Homo sapiens: one gene and its partner. The protein of the gene in region 2 binds, or shares a complex with, the protein of the main gene of each other region. Each region holds a gene or a part of one and is shown on either strand. Other genes may lie near its edges. The genes, in order: CDHR2 and USH1C.

Region 1 (7,271 bases), on a different chromosome or scaffold from region 2:
ATTTCTTACTATACCAGAATTCTTGAGTAATACAGAGAACTCATAGCTAATTGTAAATTAAGCCAGTGCCTTGTCATTAAATAATTCTCAGAGCCAGCTGGGCACGGTGGCTCAAGCCTGTAATCCCAGCACTTTGGGAGGCCAAGGCAGGTGGATCACCTGAGGTCGGGAGTCTGCGACCAGCCTGACCAACATGCAGAAACCCCATCTCTACTAAAAAATACAAAATTAGCTGGGTGTGGTGGTGCATGCCTGTAATCCCAGCTACTTGGGAGGCTGAGGCAGGAGAGTCACTTGAACTCGAGAGGCGGAGGTTGCGGTGAGTCGAGATCACGCCATTGCACTCCAGCCTGGGCGACAAGAGTGAAACTCTGCCTCAAAAAAAAATAAATAAATAAATAAATTATTGGAGCCAAGTCATAAAAAGGCTTTCAGCTGTTTATGGTGTTGGATGTGGCAAGTTTATTAGGGGTGGTGGCCATGCCGTGTGGGGATGAGGCTTCCCACACCACCGAGGGCTGGGCCTGGCTGGGCTTCTTACTGACCTGGAGAGCTGCCTACCCTCTCTGGGACTCCGTTTCCCTGTTCAACAAGAAGCTAGCAGTTCCCAGAAGGTGGCATGTGGGTGCCATTCCCTATGCTTTGGAAAGGACATGGGTACAAGAGATGGACAGGGCTGGCCTTCCCCACTTAGAGCCGAGTGTAAGGACAGGGTCTCTCGGAGCCTCAGCTTCCTCTTGTAAAATGGGGATAGTAATTCTCCCTCTCTAGGTTGACGTTCATGCTAGAGACAGTGACTGTGTGACTTTCAAGTCTTAAGACAGCTTCCCAATCTTCTGCCAATTTGGTTCTAATGTCAAGAGTTTAGCCACGGCAATTTTCTTTAAATAGATTCCTTTTTAAGACCTAAGCACTGGTGTTGGCCTATCCTTAACAGTAACGTTGGTGAACTCGAAGCTCTGTGTGCTGGTTAAATTTTTCTCTAAAAGGCACTAGAATGAATAAAAATGCTTGTGTCCCCTCCCCAACCAGCTTCATGGTCTACTAGGGGAATTGGTACTCCCCGCACGGAAATGAGGGATCCCAGGGGAGGTGCTTAGGAAATCTGAGCATCGCTGTGTGTGTGCACGCCAGTGTGTGTGTGTCTAAGTGTGAATGTGTGTGCCTGAGGGTGTGTATAAGGGTGAGTGAGTGTATGTGAATGTGTGTGACAGTGTGTGGGTATGTAGGTGATTGTGGGTGTGTATGTGTGTGACTGTGCAAGTGTGTGAATGTGTGTGAATTGAGTGTATTTGTGTGAGTGTGTGTGAATTGAGTGTGTGGTGAGTGCATGAGAGAGTGAGGGTGTGAGTGTGTGTGTCAGGATAAGTGTGTGAGTGTGAGAGGGTGTGTGAGTGTATGTGAGTGTGAGAGGATAAGTGTGTGAGGGTGTGTATGAGTGTGTGCATGTGTGTGAGTGTGTTAGGGTGAGTGAGTGTATGTGTGAGTGGGACAGTGTGTGAGAGTGTGTGTGAGGGTGTGTATGAGTGTGTGTGCATATGTGTGTAAGTGTGTGTTAGGGTGAGACTGAGTGTGAGTGGGACAGTGTGTGAGAGTGTGTGTGTGTGAGAGGGTGTGTATGTGAGAGAGACTGTGTGTGTGAGTGTGTGTGTGTGAGAGAGAGAGAGAGTATGGCAGTGGAGGGGTGTAGGGGGAGCAGGGCAGGATTTCCACATGTGAGGGACTTAGGGCAGTGATCTGTTTGGAGTTGGGGAACAGGGGCAGGTTCTTGTCCAAATCTGGATTTGCAGAGCAGACACACTGTTTTTTGAAACCATTTGCTTATTCGGGGCAGCGTGGGGATGGCGGATAGAGACGGTGAGGGCCAGCCTCCCAGGCCACCCTTGCCTCTGATCCCTGCTGGGGTGGAGGGATGCCTGGCCTGGCTGGGCCCCCAGATATTGTCCACTCTTGCTCCCAGGCCAGAGACGATGATTCAGGGAACAATGGCGTCATCCTGTTCTCCATCCTCCGAGTAGACTTCATCTCTAAGGACGGGGCCACCATCCCTTTCCAGGGTGTCTTCTCGATCTTCACCTCCTCCGAGGCCGACGTGTTCGCTGGGAGCATTCAGTAACTGCGGGCGGCCCCGGGAGGGAGGTTGCGGGGAGGGGCCCGATAGGAGCTTTCAGGCAGCAAGTCCCCCATCCTGGAGGTTACAAGGGTCCTGAGGATTCAGCTTGGGTTCCAAGACTGACCTGCGCCTCCCGCCTTCCGCAGGCCGGTGACCAGCCTCGACTCCACTCTCCAAGGCACCTACCAAGTGACAGTCCAGGCCAGGGACAGACCTTCCTTGGGTCCTTTCCTGGAAGCCACCACCACCCTGAATGTGAGTGCTGGTCCCACCTCCAGCCCCCAACGCCCTCTGCCAGCCCCCAGGGTCCCTGGTGCCTCATCTCCTGCACACCCCCTTCCCAGCTCTTCACCGTGGACCAGAGTTACCGCTCGCGGCTGCAGTTCTCCACACCGAAGGAGGAGGTGGGCGCCAACAGACAGGCGATTAATGCGTAGGTCTGGGGAGCCCCGGAGGGAGGGGTAGGAAGAACAGGGTGTAGGAGCCTGGTCCCCGACAAAACCTGGATGGGATGTCTCTCAATCCTGTTCCTGACCCACATTTGACCTTGTCCCTGTCTTCAACCCTGTACTTTCACCTGCACGACGTTCTTGCATGTCCCCAGAAGCCCATACCCAGCCAAGGGCAGAGGGAAGCCTTGGAACAAGGCTGCCGTGTACAGTTGTGAAGGCTGTGTGTTGCACAAGGGCACTCTGCTTGCTAAGCTATTCACCCAGCCCCAGAGGAAGGGATTTCCTTTTGTAATTTTCACAGAGATGCTACCTACTCAGCCAACAGAGCTGTCCAGAGGAGGTGCCCTTTCTCACTCATACAATTCTTAATCCCACTGGCACAGCCCTGGCCACAGGCCCAGGCTAAGACCCCAGGCCTCTGTGACATCTGCCTTCTTTGCAGGGCTCTTACCCAGGCAACCAGGACTACAGTATACATTGTGGACATTCAGGACATAGATTCTGCAGCTCGGTGAGTGCCCAGAGGCCTGGGGGTGGGGTTGAGGGGGAGAAGCGGTAGCAGGAGGGGCCTGCTGGGTGATCCAGGCTCCTGACTCTTCAACTCTGTCCCGCTCCAGGGCCCGACCTCACTCCTACCTCGATGCCTACTTTGTCTTCCCCAATGGGTCAGCCCTGACCCTTGATGAGCTGAGTGTGTGAGTGGGGCTGCCCTTGGGGCAGGTGTGAGGGTGAGCAGGAAGCCTGGGGTGTGCCAAGGTCCCTCGGGCCTAAGTGGAGTTCTGTGGCCAGGATGATCCGGAATGATCAGGACTCGCTGACGCAGCTGCTGCAGCTGGGGCTGGTGGTGCTGGTGAGTGCGGGCAGGGCGGGGCAGCAGGTGGGGCTGCTGAAGACGAGTGTGCTTCCCTCACACTCATCTTTCTCCAGGGCTCCCAGGAGAGCCAGGAGTCAGACCTGTCGAAACAGCTCATCAGTGTCATCATAGGATTGGGAGTGGCTTTGCTGCTGGTCCTTGTGATCATGACCATGGCCTTCGTGTGTGTGCGGAAGAGGTGCGGCTCCCATTGCCCCCGTGTCTCCAACCTTCACCCTCTCCCACCACCCAAGACGTCGGGGGGTAGGGGTAGAAGGAGCTGGGGCTTAGGCACAGGTATACATGCATTCACTCCCCAGTGACCCAGTGCGAGATCTTGGGTGAGTCACCTCCCCTCCACGGGCCTCAGTTTCCTTATCTGTGAAAGGGCATGAGACTTGATTCCTCAGTGCACTCAAGGAAGTAACATGCATCTCACACCCAGCTAGACGTCTGGCACACACTATGCGTTTAATAGATGCTGCTGCTTTTTCCAACATGTATAGAGTCAGCAGCCGTATCTGGGCTTGACTTCAAGCCTTGTCACTGGCTATTTGACCTTTGGCAAATCACTTGCCTTCTCTGGCTCTTACTTCTACCCTCTGTAAAATAGAGCTAACACTCACCTCCCGGGATCTTGTGAAGCCACAGGCTCAGGGCCTCCACTGGGGACACAACAGGTGTGCAGCAACAGTGTGACCCCTCTTCCGGTTCCCCACAGCTACAACCGGAAGCTTCAAGCTATGAAGGCTGCCAAGGAGGCCAGGAAGACAGCAGCAGGGGTGATGCCCTCAGCCCCTGCCATCCCAGGGACTAACATGTACAACACTGAGCGGTGAGCAGGGGTCAAAGGGTAGGTAAGAGGCCTGGTGGGGTGGCTGAGGGCCAGGCAACTTGACCAGGCTTTCTCTCCAGAGCCAACCCCATGCTGAACCTCCCCAACAAAGACCTGGGCTTGGAGTACCTCTCTCCCTCCAATGACCTGGACTCTGTCAGGTGAGCAGTGCCCCTCACAGCCAGGCTAGGTGGTGGTGGTGGTACAGGTAGTGACGGTGGTGGTGGTGATGGTGTTGGTGGTGATGATGGTGATGACAATGGTGATGGTGTGGTCATGGTAGTAGTGGTAGTTATGGTGGTGGTGGTGATGGTAGTGAGGTGATGGTGATGGTAGCAATGGTGACAGTGGTGATGATGACAACAATGATGGTGGTGATGATGGTGTTGGTGTTGAGGTGATGGTGATGGTTGTGATGGTGATGGTGGTGATGATGGTGATGATGACGATGGTGGTGGTGGTGGTGGTGTTGGTGTTGAGGTGATGGTGATGGTTGTGATGGTGATGGTGGTGATGATGGTGTTGGTGTTGAGGTGATGGTGATGGTTGTGATGGTGATGGTGGTGATGATGGTGTTGGTGTTGAGGTGATGGTGATGGTTGTGATGGTGATGGTGGTGATGATGGTGATGATGACGGTGGTGGTGGTGGTGGTGTTGGTGTTGAGGTGATGGTGGTGATGGTAGTGGTGGTGGGTGATGGTGGTGGCAATGGTGATGGTGGTGGTCATGGTGGTCATGGTAGTGGTGGCAGTTATCGTGGTGGTGGTGGTGATGGTGGTGGTGATGGTGATGGTAGTGATGGTGATGGTGGTGATGATGGTGATGATGACAATGATGATGGTGGTGGTGGTGTTGGTGTTGAGGTGATGATGGTGCTGATGGTGATGGTGGTGATGATGGTGATGATGACAATGATGATGGTGGTGGTGGTGTTGGTGTTGAGGTGATGATGGTGGTGATGGTGATGGTGGTGATGGTGATGGTGGTGGTGGTGGTGTTGGTGTTGAGGTGATGGTGGTGATGGTGATGGTAGTGATGGTGATGGTGGTGGTGATGGTTATGATGATGATGGTGGTGGTGGTGTTGGTGTTGAGGTGATGGTGATGGTGGTGATGATGGATGATGACGGTGGTGGTGGTGGTGTTGGTGTTGAGGTGATGGTGATGGTGGTGGTGATAGTGATTATGATGATAGTGGTGGTGGTGGTGTTGGTGTTGAGGTGATGGTGATGGTGCTGATGGTAGTGATGATGGTAGTTGTGATGATGGTGGTGGTGGTGATGGTGATGATGGTGGTAGTCGTGGTGATGGTGATGGTGGTGATGGAGGTGGTGGTTCTTGGGCACAGTAAGGGAGGACTGGGCCTGCCAACACCTGAGCTCCATCACCTCTCTTACAGCGTCAACTCCCTGGACGACAACTCTGTGGATGTGGACAAGAACAGTCAGGAAATCAAGGCAAGATGGGGGATGAATTGGTGCCTGGAGGTTCCAACTTGGGTTCTTCTGTGGAGGCTTCAGGGCAGAGCTCAAGGGACCTGCTACTGACATGGGCAGTTCTGCTTCTCTGCACCAGGCCCCAGGAAGCCCTGTGGCTTTGGAATGGGGTCCAATTCCTGCTCCTCCACTGGTTCACTGTGTGACCCTGAGAGACTTCTTGCCTCTGCTTCTCAGTTTTTTCACCTGTAAATGGGGATGGGAACATCAACCATGCAGGGCCATTGTGAGGATTAAATAAGGGCAGGCATAAGAACCACTTGGCACAAACAAGTGCTCACCAATCTGCTTCCAGCCCTTTATGGCCGTTATAGGAAAGCCAGCTGGGGGTGGGAAAGCAGATCCAGAGGTGAACCAGCATAGTCTAGCAAAGGAGAGAAGATGGGTTCAAATAAACAACAGTACCGCCATCTGTTAAACAGGTGAGTTGGTTGGATGAGATCAAGTGTTCATAGACTGGCCTGCTGCGTAAAAGCACCTGAGGAGCTCTTGAAAAATACTGATGCCCAGGTCACACCCAGGTCCATGGGTGCAACATTCTAGCATTTTAAAGACCAAGAGTTCTGATTCTGATGGCCCACGTGGAGCCTGGGCATGGACCTGTTGTAAAAGCCGCTCAGGGGGTGCTAAGGTGCAGGCACGGTGGACACCGCTGGAGCGGGTCAGCAGGCTGAGTGTGGGGTGGGTCCTGGACATGGAGGGGTGGCTCTCTGGAAACAGAAGGAACTGCCCTCTCTCCTTCCCACTTTGAAAGCCACCTCTGGAGGAGACGCTTAAGGCCCATTGGAGCTGTGATAGGCTGAGGTTCTGTGTGTGGTGCTGCGGGGGATCCACCCACATTTTCCCCCAGTCTGGGTTCTGGGCTTGGCTGGGTCCCAGGCCACTAGGGGCTCCCAACCTGACTTCATGGTTCAGAATTTGTTTTCCCTGAGGACTCCTTACATGGAAAGATTTGGTCAACCGAAGCCTCTCTTGGTCTTTAAAATGGTAGAATGTCGCACAGGGGCCCAGGTATAACACGGTACAGGGAATCTGGCACAGAGGCCTCCGGACAGGCCCCAGGTATGGTTGTGTGGGTGGTAATGCAGGCAGCCAGGCAGCGCTGGAGGCCTCTGGGTAGATGCTAGGAGATGGTTAGTGGCCAAAACTCTAATGAACATGTCTGGGGAACTGAGGCGAAGGAACAGTCTTGTCTACTGGAGTGCATGGCCTGTGGCAGAGGCTGATGCTGCTCCTAACCCAAGGGAGTGGAGTTAAGGACCCCCTGAGGTGTGGCTGGATCTGTGGACTGGGAAGGGGCAGGGAAGTAGGAGAAGGGTCTGGAGAGGGTGTGGGGACAAGTCACGGAAAGTCTTCAAAGCCAGAAAATTGCTCAGATTATGTCCTGGGAGGGCAGGGGGTTGCTATATTTCTGAGAAGCTGCCCAAGGCTCCACCCTGTCTCCTGCAGCAGTGAGTCTTGCGGGTCTCTGGGCAGGTCCACGAGGCATGGGGCCTTTTTGGGAGCTGTCTGCCCCCTGCTC
Region 2 (6,288 bases):
GATTGGACCTGTGACTGGTCCCTAACCCAAGGGTCGCCCGCTCAGGTGATTTGGCCTGATCAGATTGTACCACAGGAATTTGGAATGGGGAAACAGAGACGGGGTCAGGCGAGTCGTGCTGATACAGCCCCACCCTCTTCCTCAGAGCTAGCAGCCCTGGTCCCTGTCACCAGAAGAACTGTGACATTCCCCCTGCTGGGCCCCCGGAGTTATGCCTTCCTGCCTCAAGCCCTTGCATTTCCCATGAGCTTCTGTGGGATGTGCTTCCACGGAGGGAGTGGACCCTGCCATCTTCCTCCCTCACATGCTGTCGTGGTGACCTCAGGAGAAGCATTGGTGGCTGTGTCGTTCTTGAAAGAAGCTGGGCACCCCATATCATGAGGTGACCCTTCGGGGCTCCTGCCTTCAGCTCTGCTTTCTGGAATTGAGCAAAATCCCTGCCACACAGACTTCATCTCCTACCATCTCTGCTGAGAAGACATTGAAGCCCAGCCCAGCCCATCTCCTGCTTTCTCAACCTCTGCTCCAAGCCAGCCCTGGCCATTTGATCACACCCTTCATGTCAGACCCAGATCACAGCACTGGGATCTGTCTATCACCCTTGAATAGGGGCCACAAACCTTATGGTTTTTTGATTTGCAGCCTTGAATCTGCTGCCCAAATCCACACTCACTCCTATAAGCTGGAAAATAAATCTATTTTATTAATGAGCTCAGAGTAAGGTTTGGAGTGACAATCCTGGCAGCAATTAGAGCAGAGGGCAGAGGAGAGGGATGGAGAGAGAGAGACTCCAGTGGGGTCTTATTAGGGTTCAAGGAAGGAGTCCCCCAGAGCTGGGAGAGACCAAATTCACTGGGCCAGAGGAAAGGAATGAGAGTCTGGATCCTTGAGATCTTCTCCCAAATGGCTGGCTGCTCCCTTTCCTCCACGTTGGCCTTCAGAAGAGTGGCCCGAGCTGTTCCTTATCTGGCCCTGGTTCAGGGCCAAAGGGAGTTTGAGATTCCTGGGTGATAGATTCAGGTCCCAAGGATGCCATCTGGTGTGTGTAGTGTGGCCTCTCTCAAGGCTGATCCGAGGCTTTGTGTTCACGAGGTGGGGCCGGAGCTCACTGTTTCCTAACGGTGAATTTGGTTTCCCCTTTTGGACTTCAGAAGAAGGTCCTGCAGGGAAGTGGAAACAGCCCAGGTGGATACAGGCTTTGTGGGTGCACACTCAGCCCAGCCAGAGCAAGGCCCCACAAGGGGGAGTACCCACTCTGGCAGCACAAGGCCCTGCCACCCTTTGGAGACCCCTCTGGGTGCAGGCCCCAAGTGGCTACACACCAGCCACAGCCACAGCACACAGGAGGCCAGGGAGAAAGCGGGAGGGACACCTGGGATGGGGGAAGGAGGAGACTGGGAGGAACAGGGGCAAGAGTCCTTTGCAAAAGGCAAGTAACAGAAAACATAGGGCCATGCAGGCCACCCCAGAAGCCATGGTCTACCCGGCCAAGTGTCTTGGGAGCATGAGGCCCTAATGTTTTGGGAAAGTTGTAACAGAAAAGTCAAGTCCAGGCTTGGGTCTGCCCCAGATGCTGCCATCTGTGGCTTCAGGCCACACCAAACACCAGTTTCACAGCCACCTGCCAGCTCTGTCCACGGGCACATCCCTATCACAGGGTGAGAAACACATCCTACAGCTGGGTTCCACGGTATATCCCACAGATAGAGCCCAGAGCCAAGGAAGGGAGAAGGCAGAGAAGACCGTTTGGTCTAAGCACGGCTCAGGCCATGACAGGGCACAACAGGACATGAGCAACTCTAATCCACCAACCCTGGTTCTTTGGACCAGCCTTCAAAACCTCTTAATAGCCCTGGTTCTGGCCAAGTGTGGGGGCCATGGTGGAGCAAGAGCTCCCAGGAGGTTGGCATTCACAGGAAGGGGAATTTTCACATTCTGTTGAGGACATCTCTTGGGGGCAATTCCAGCCAGGCTTCCTGTGGGCTCCTTCAGCCCCACATGCCTGGTTCGAGGCATTGTCTGTGTCCCTCAGAGAATGTTGCCCAGGGCTTCATCCTGCTCATTTGGGTGCTGCTTGGGACCCAAAGCAGGTCCCAGGGCCGTGATGAGTCAGGACACCTGGGTCCCAAGCAAGTACTACAGACTGGGCTTTGCACCACTTCCCTGAGGGGAGGGCTTTGAGTCTGAGGAATTCCACTGTGGCCAACAGCAGGCCCCAGGCAGCACTTCAGGGATGGCGCCTTGTGTACCCTCCAGACGCCAGTCCAAAGAACCTGCTGACAGCGTGGGCAGCAGATGGCCACTGCAAGCAGCAGGGACACACAGGGCCCTGTGGCCCGCCTGCCTATTCACCGTGGGCTCCAGCTGCAGGAGGAACCCGTGTCTGTGCACGGCAGCACGGTCTTCAAGGAGCTTTCGGACCGGTTGGGGGCTTTCAGCTACGGAGGAGGGAAGAGAAGCTCTATATATACAGAGCAGAGCAAGAAACACAAAACAGGCTTGGTTACTCCCAGGCAGAGCTCCATGGGGCTTCTCCTTTCACTGGGCTCCTGCCTCGGGTTCTGCCTAGCCCCTGGGTTCCAGAATTAGGAGCTGCGAGACCCTGGTTTCTCCAAGACATGTGTAGAGCTCAGATTCTGCTGGGCACGGGGAGCAAGCAGGCCCAGCCACGACAGGGAGGCAGGGCATGGTCAGTGAGTGGGTGAGTGGTGGGTGGGTGAGGGCTGGGGAGGTGATGGGATGAGGTGAGGATGGAGGTGAGACACCACACAGAGGCAGAGAAACAGAGAAAGGCAGACAAAGAGGTAAGAATGGATGCAGAATGACAAGGACAGAGGAACAGGGACTCAGAGACAGGGATGAAGAGAAACAGGAAGAAAGAATAGGAGACAGTGAGAGAGAAAGGGGACCGGGATGAAGGGGAAGGAGGGGGGCAGATAAGATGTTGACAGGAAGGAAGGAAAGGGTGAAAGAAAGACAGAGAGGGAGGAGGAGAGAAGACAGAGAGACCCACAGGACACAAGAGACAGACACACAGGGAATCACAGAGAGAGACAGTCTAGGCCAAAGCTCCCTGGAGATCCCACAGCGTGGGGACAAAAGCCTGTGGTCCCGGCTGCCTAGAGGCACAGTATGAGTGAATGCAGTTAGACATCAGGAAGACCTTCCAGAGAGTGAAGGATGGACACAGACACCTTCTAACCATCTAATAATGGGGCAGGGGATAAAGTTCTGAGTGGGGAATTAACAATCCTGAGTCTTTTTCCCAACGTCTCTGCTTACCCGGTCTAAGACCTCATGCCTCAATTCCCCATAGTAGAGAAGAATTTGGACAAGACTGCCCGGGAGGCAGCTCAGACACTGCTTAAGGACAATGACTTGGCTCTAGTCCAGGAGTTTTCTAGGAGCTCTGGCTATGAGAAGCTGCGTGCTTGGGCCATTCCTTCAGGCTGGGAGAAGGCTGGGGATGGGCTGGAGAAAGGTGGCTGAGATTCTGGAGAAGGAAGAAGAGGTCTCAGGCTAGGTGCTTGCACACACTTACAGCTCATCGTCATACTCCTTTGGGGGGCAGACGGCAACCACAAGGTCGATCCAGTCCTGTGGGGAGAAGCCGTGTGACTCTGGGGCACACTCAGTTGGATGGTGCATCTGCCCCGGCACTCCATCCCCATTTCTGGGCCCCATGGCCTAGGATCAGCCAGGCTGCACCTTCTTCCCACGGGCCCACCTGGGGCCCACTGTGACTTCCATGGTCTGAGGACGTTTCTAGTCTCTGAGGCTTCGGGACCATAGAGGACAGGGCTGCAAGGCCCTTGAATGACACTCAGCTCCCAAATGTCAATCTATGGACCGGGGACAGGCAGCAACCTCAGAATCACTTGGGGGAACTTCTTAAAAGTGTAGGCTCGTAGACTTGGCCCCCAGAAGTCAAGGGTGAGTCCTGGGAAATAGTACTTTTAACAACCTCTCTGGGTAATTCCGACGCACTTTCTGATGCACAATCAAGTGGGGGACTTCTGGCCCAGCTTTTTGATCCTAACACCTGAATCCCTTTTACTGCCATCCTTGACTTGCCCCTCATTCTCCCTCCTTGGCTTAGGTGTATCCCCTGAAAAGTATTGGAAATATCACTGGGCCCCTCTACCATGAGCTGGTTCCTAATATTGAGCTGAAATCTCTCTCTCTTTCCCCAGGACTTCCCTCCATCCAATCCAGGTCTTCCCTCAAGAATCAGAGAGAACACTTCTGCTCCCTCTGCCCTAATGCAGACCTTCAGATAATCAAAGATAGTCATCATGTTACCCGTGAGTCTTCTCTTCTCCACATCCCTTCATGTGGGTCCCAGGCCCATCTGGTCAGCTTCCTCGGCACTGAACTTAATACCTCAGGCTCGGCTGCCTGCATACAGTTGCACAGGTTGTGCATTGCACACCATGAGCAGGCACCATTCACACTACAGTCTGTAAAAGGGCACCCCCTCAGATTATGTAGTGCACAGCCTGGGCAATCTTATGCAGTGGCCGTGATCCAGGTGGGTGTCTAATGAGTGCAGAGCAGATTCCCACCAGCCCCTCCTTCATCCTGGGTTCTCTGCTTTTGTTAATGCTTTCTGGTAGCCCCCAGAATTCTCTTGATTCTTGTTCAGTGTGCACTTAGAAAAGACCTTAAGTCTTTTTCTTGGGTGACCTGCCATGCCCTGGCTTCAAGAGTCTGTTTAAGCCACTGGCTTTTTGGATCCAAGGTCAGGAATTGACATCTATTTTTCTGAATCCCATCTTGTCAGATTTAAACCACAGGCTGGATGGGGTATGGTGTCACCAAAGTGTTGCCTGGACTCCAGATGCCCACCCTGGAATGAGGCATCCTATTGTGAGACCTGGCTGCAGAGGCCAGGGTTTGAGGCAGGCAGGTGAGGGAGGAAAGGAGGGAGGGGCCTTATTCTTACCCCGCCCTGATTCCAGGCCTTCTGCAGGGCAGCCTCAGCCTCAGCCAGGGTGTAGTCTGTCACAATCTTGCCGTTGATTGCCATGATCTCGTCCCCTTTCACAATGCCACCTGCAGGCAGATGAGGCTGATTGGCCAACTGGGCTGTATGTGACACGTGCCTGGCCCAGGGCTTGGCAAAGGGGGGTCATTGCCAGACAGCAGAAGAGACCTGAGCCTGGGTTCTGAAAGCTCATGTGGACTCAGAAAGCATGAGGGGAAACTAGCCACCTGGTTAGTGGCTAGTCAAAGGGCATTTAGTCCCTGTCCCTTCCACACCCCCTCACCCCAGCTCAGGAGAACCTGGATATCATTGATGATGAGCCTCTGTTATTACAGAGGGACACAGACCTGCATTTCCAGCACAGTATGAGGCCTGAGTCAATTCTGCCAGCCGGCCCTCCCTGTTGCCAGTCATGCTGGTCTGTTCAGGTCCCTGAGCTGCCATGCTCTCTCCTGCCTCAGAGGCTTCATGTCGCTGTTCCCTACCTTGCTTTCTCTTCTTCTAGGTCTGAGAGGAAATGTCAGAAGGGGCTTCTCTGACCCCCGCTCAGTCGAATGTAGATCTTGCCTATTCTCTCACAGCATCCCAATCTTTTCTTATTTGGCATTTTCCACAATTCGTAATCATTAATCTGTTTGTTTACTGATGGTCTCTCCCACCACACTGTCAGCTCCACGTGGGCAGGGATTGTCTTTTTGGTTCACCATAATATCCCCAGCACTTAACATAATGCCTGACACAAAATAGGACCTCAGTAGATATTTGTTGAATAAATGAAGCTGTAATAAGGTGCTCCTGAAAGAGTTGCCTGGGATCTAATAATTTTGGGGAAAGCTGAGTTATAAGCTGAACAGAGCTACTCACTGCAGGATTTGTCAGTCTTGAATGTGCTAACATGCACTGCAGCTTTCCAAGAGGTAGACAGATTGTGCGTGGTTTTCCACACCTCTTTGACATCAGAGCCCTTTTTGGAGGAATTTCTCCCAGTCCTGATGTCCACAGAACACTCTCCAGGTTACATTGAAATAGATCACCCAGGAGCCTTGTGGCATGAAGGCCCATAGGAATGTGGTGTATGATACTGACAATGGTGGCCATGGTGGCTTAAAACACACGTGCTCCTAGGGAAGCTTCATCAGTGACTAGTTATGTTCAAAGCAGTGCAGGACCAAACCACAGAAAGCAGTTGCCTCTGTGCAGTGCAACTGGGGATGGGTGACTTTCACCTTTTCATTTTGTACAAATCCATGACAGAGTCTCAGGGGCAATAAGGCAGTGGTTGGGTTGGGGCTTTGTAAGTG

Evidence for each region.
Region 1: USH1C (region 2) and CDHR2 share a complex: the UniProt entries of both Homo sapiens proteins name them as parts of the IMAC/intermicrovillar adhesion complex.

Annotation. Positions count from the first base shown.
Region 1 is NC_000005.10:176,587,071-176,594,341, forward strand, and holds part of CDHR2 (cadherin-related family member 2 precursor), read left to right. Parts: intron 1-1,960; coding exon 1,961-2,112; intron 2,113-2,259; coding exon 2,260-2,368; intron 2,369-2,457; coding exon 2,458-2,546; intron 2,547-3,007; coding exon 3,008-3,076; intron 3,077-3,182; coding exon 3,183-3,260; intron 3,261-3,354; coding exon 3,355-3,415; intron 3,416-3,492; coding exon 3,493-3,617; intron 3,618-4,139; coding exon 4,140-4,253; intron 4,254-4,333; coding exon 4,334-4,414; intron 4,415-5,652; coding exon 5,653-5,710; intron 5,711-7,271. UniProt on the Homo sapiens protein: Intermicrovillar adhesion molecule that forms, via its extracellular domain, calcium-dependent heterophilic complexes with CDHR5 on adjacent microvilli. Thereby, controls the packing of microvilli at the apical membrane of epithelial cells.
Region 2 is NC_000011.10:17,493,217-17,499,504, forward strand, and holds the end of USH1C (harmonin), read right to left. Parts: intron 5,056-6,288; coding exon 4,946-5,055; intron 4,399-4,945; coding exon of another isoform or gene 4,303-4,398; intron 3,598-4,302; coding exon 3,542-3,597; intron 2,462-3,541; coding exon 2,353-2,461; coding exon of another isoform or gene 2,137-2,352; exon of another isoform or gene 1,197-2,136; intron 1,161-1,196; coding exon 1,116-1,160; 3' UTR 684-1,115; downstream 1-683. UniProt on the Homo sapiens protein: Anchoring/scaffolding protein that is a part of the functional network formed by USH1C, USH1G, CDH23 and MYO7A that mediates mechanotransduction in cochlear hair cells. Required for normal development and maintenance of cochlear hair cell bundles.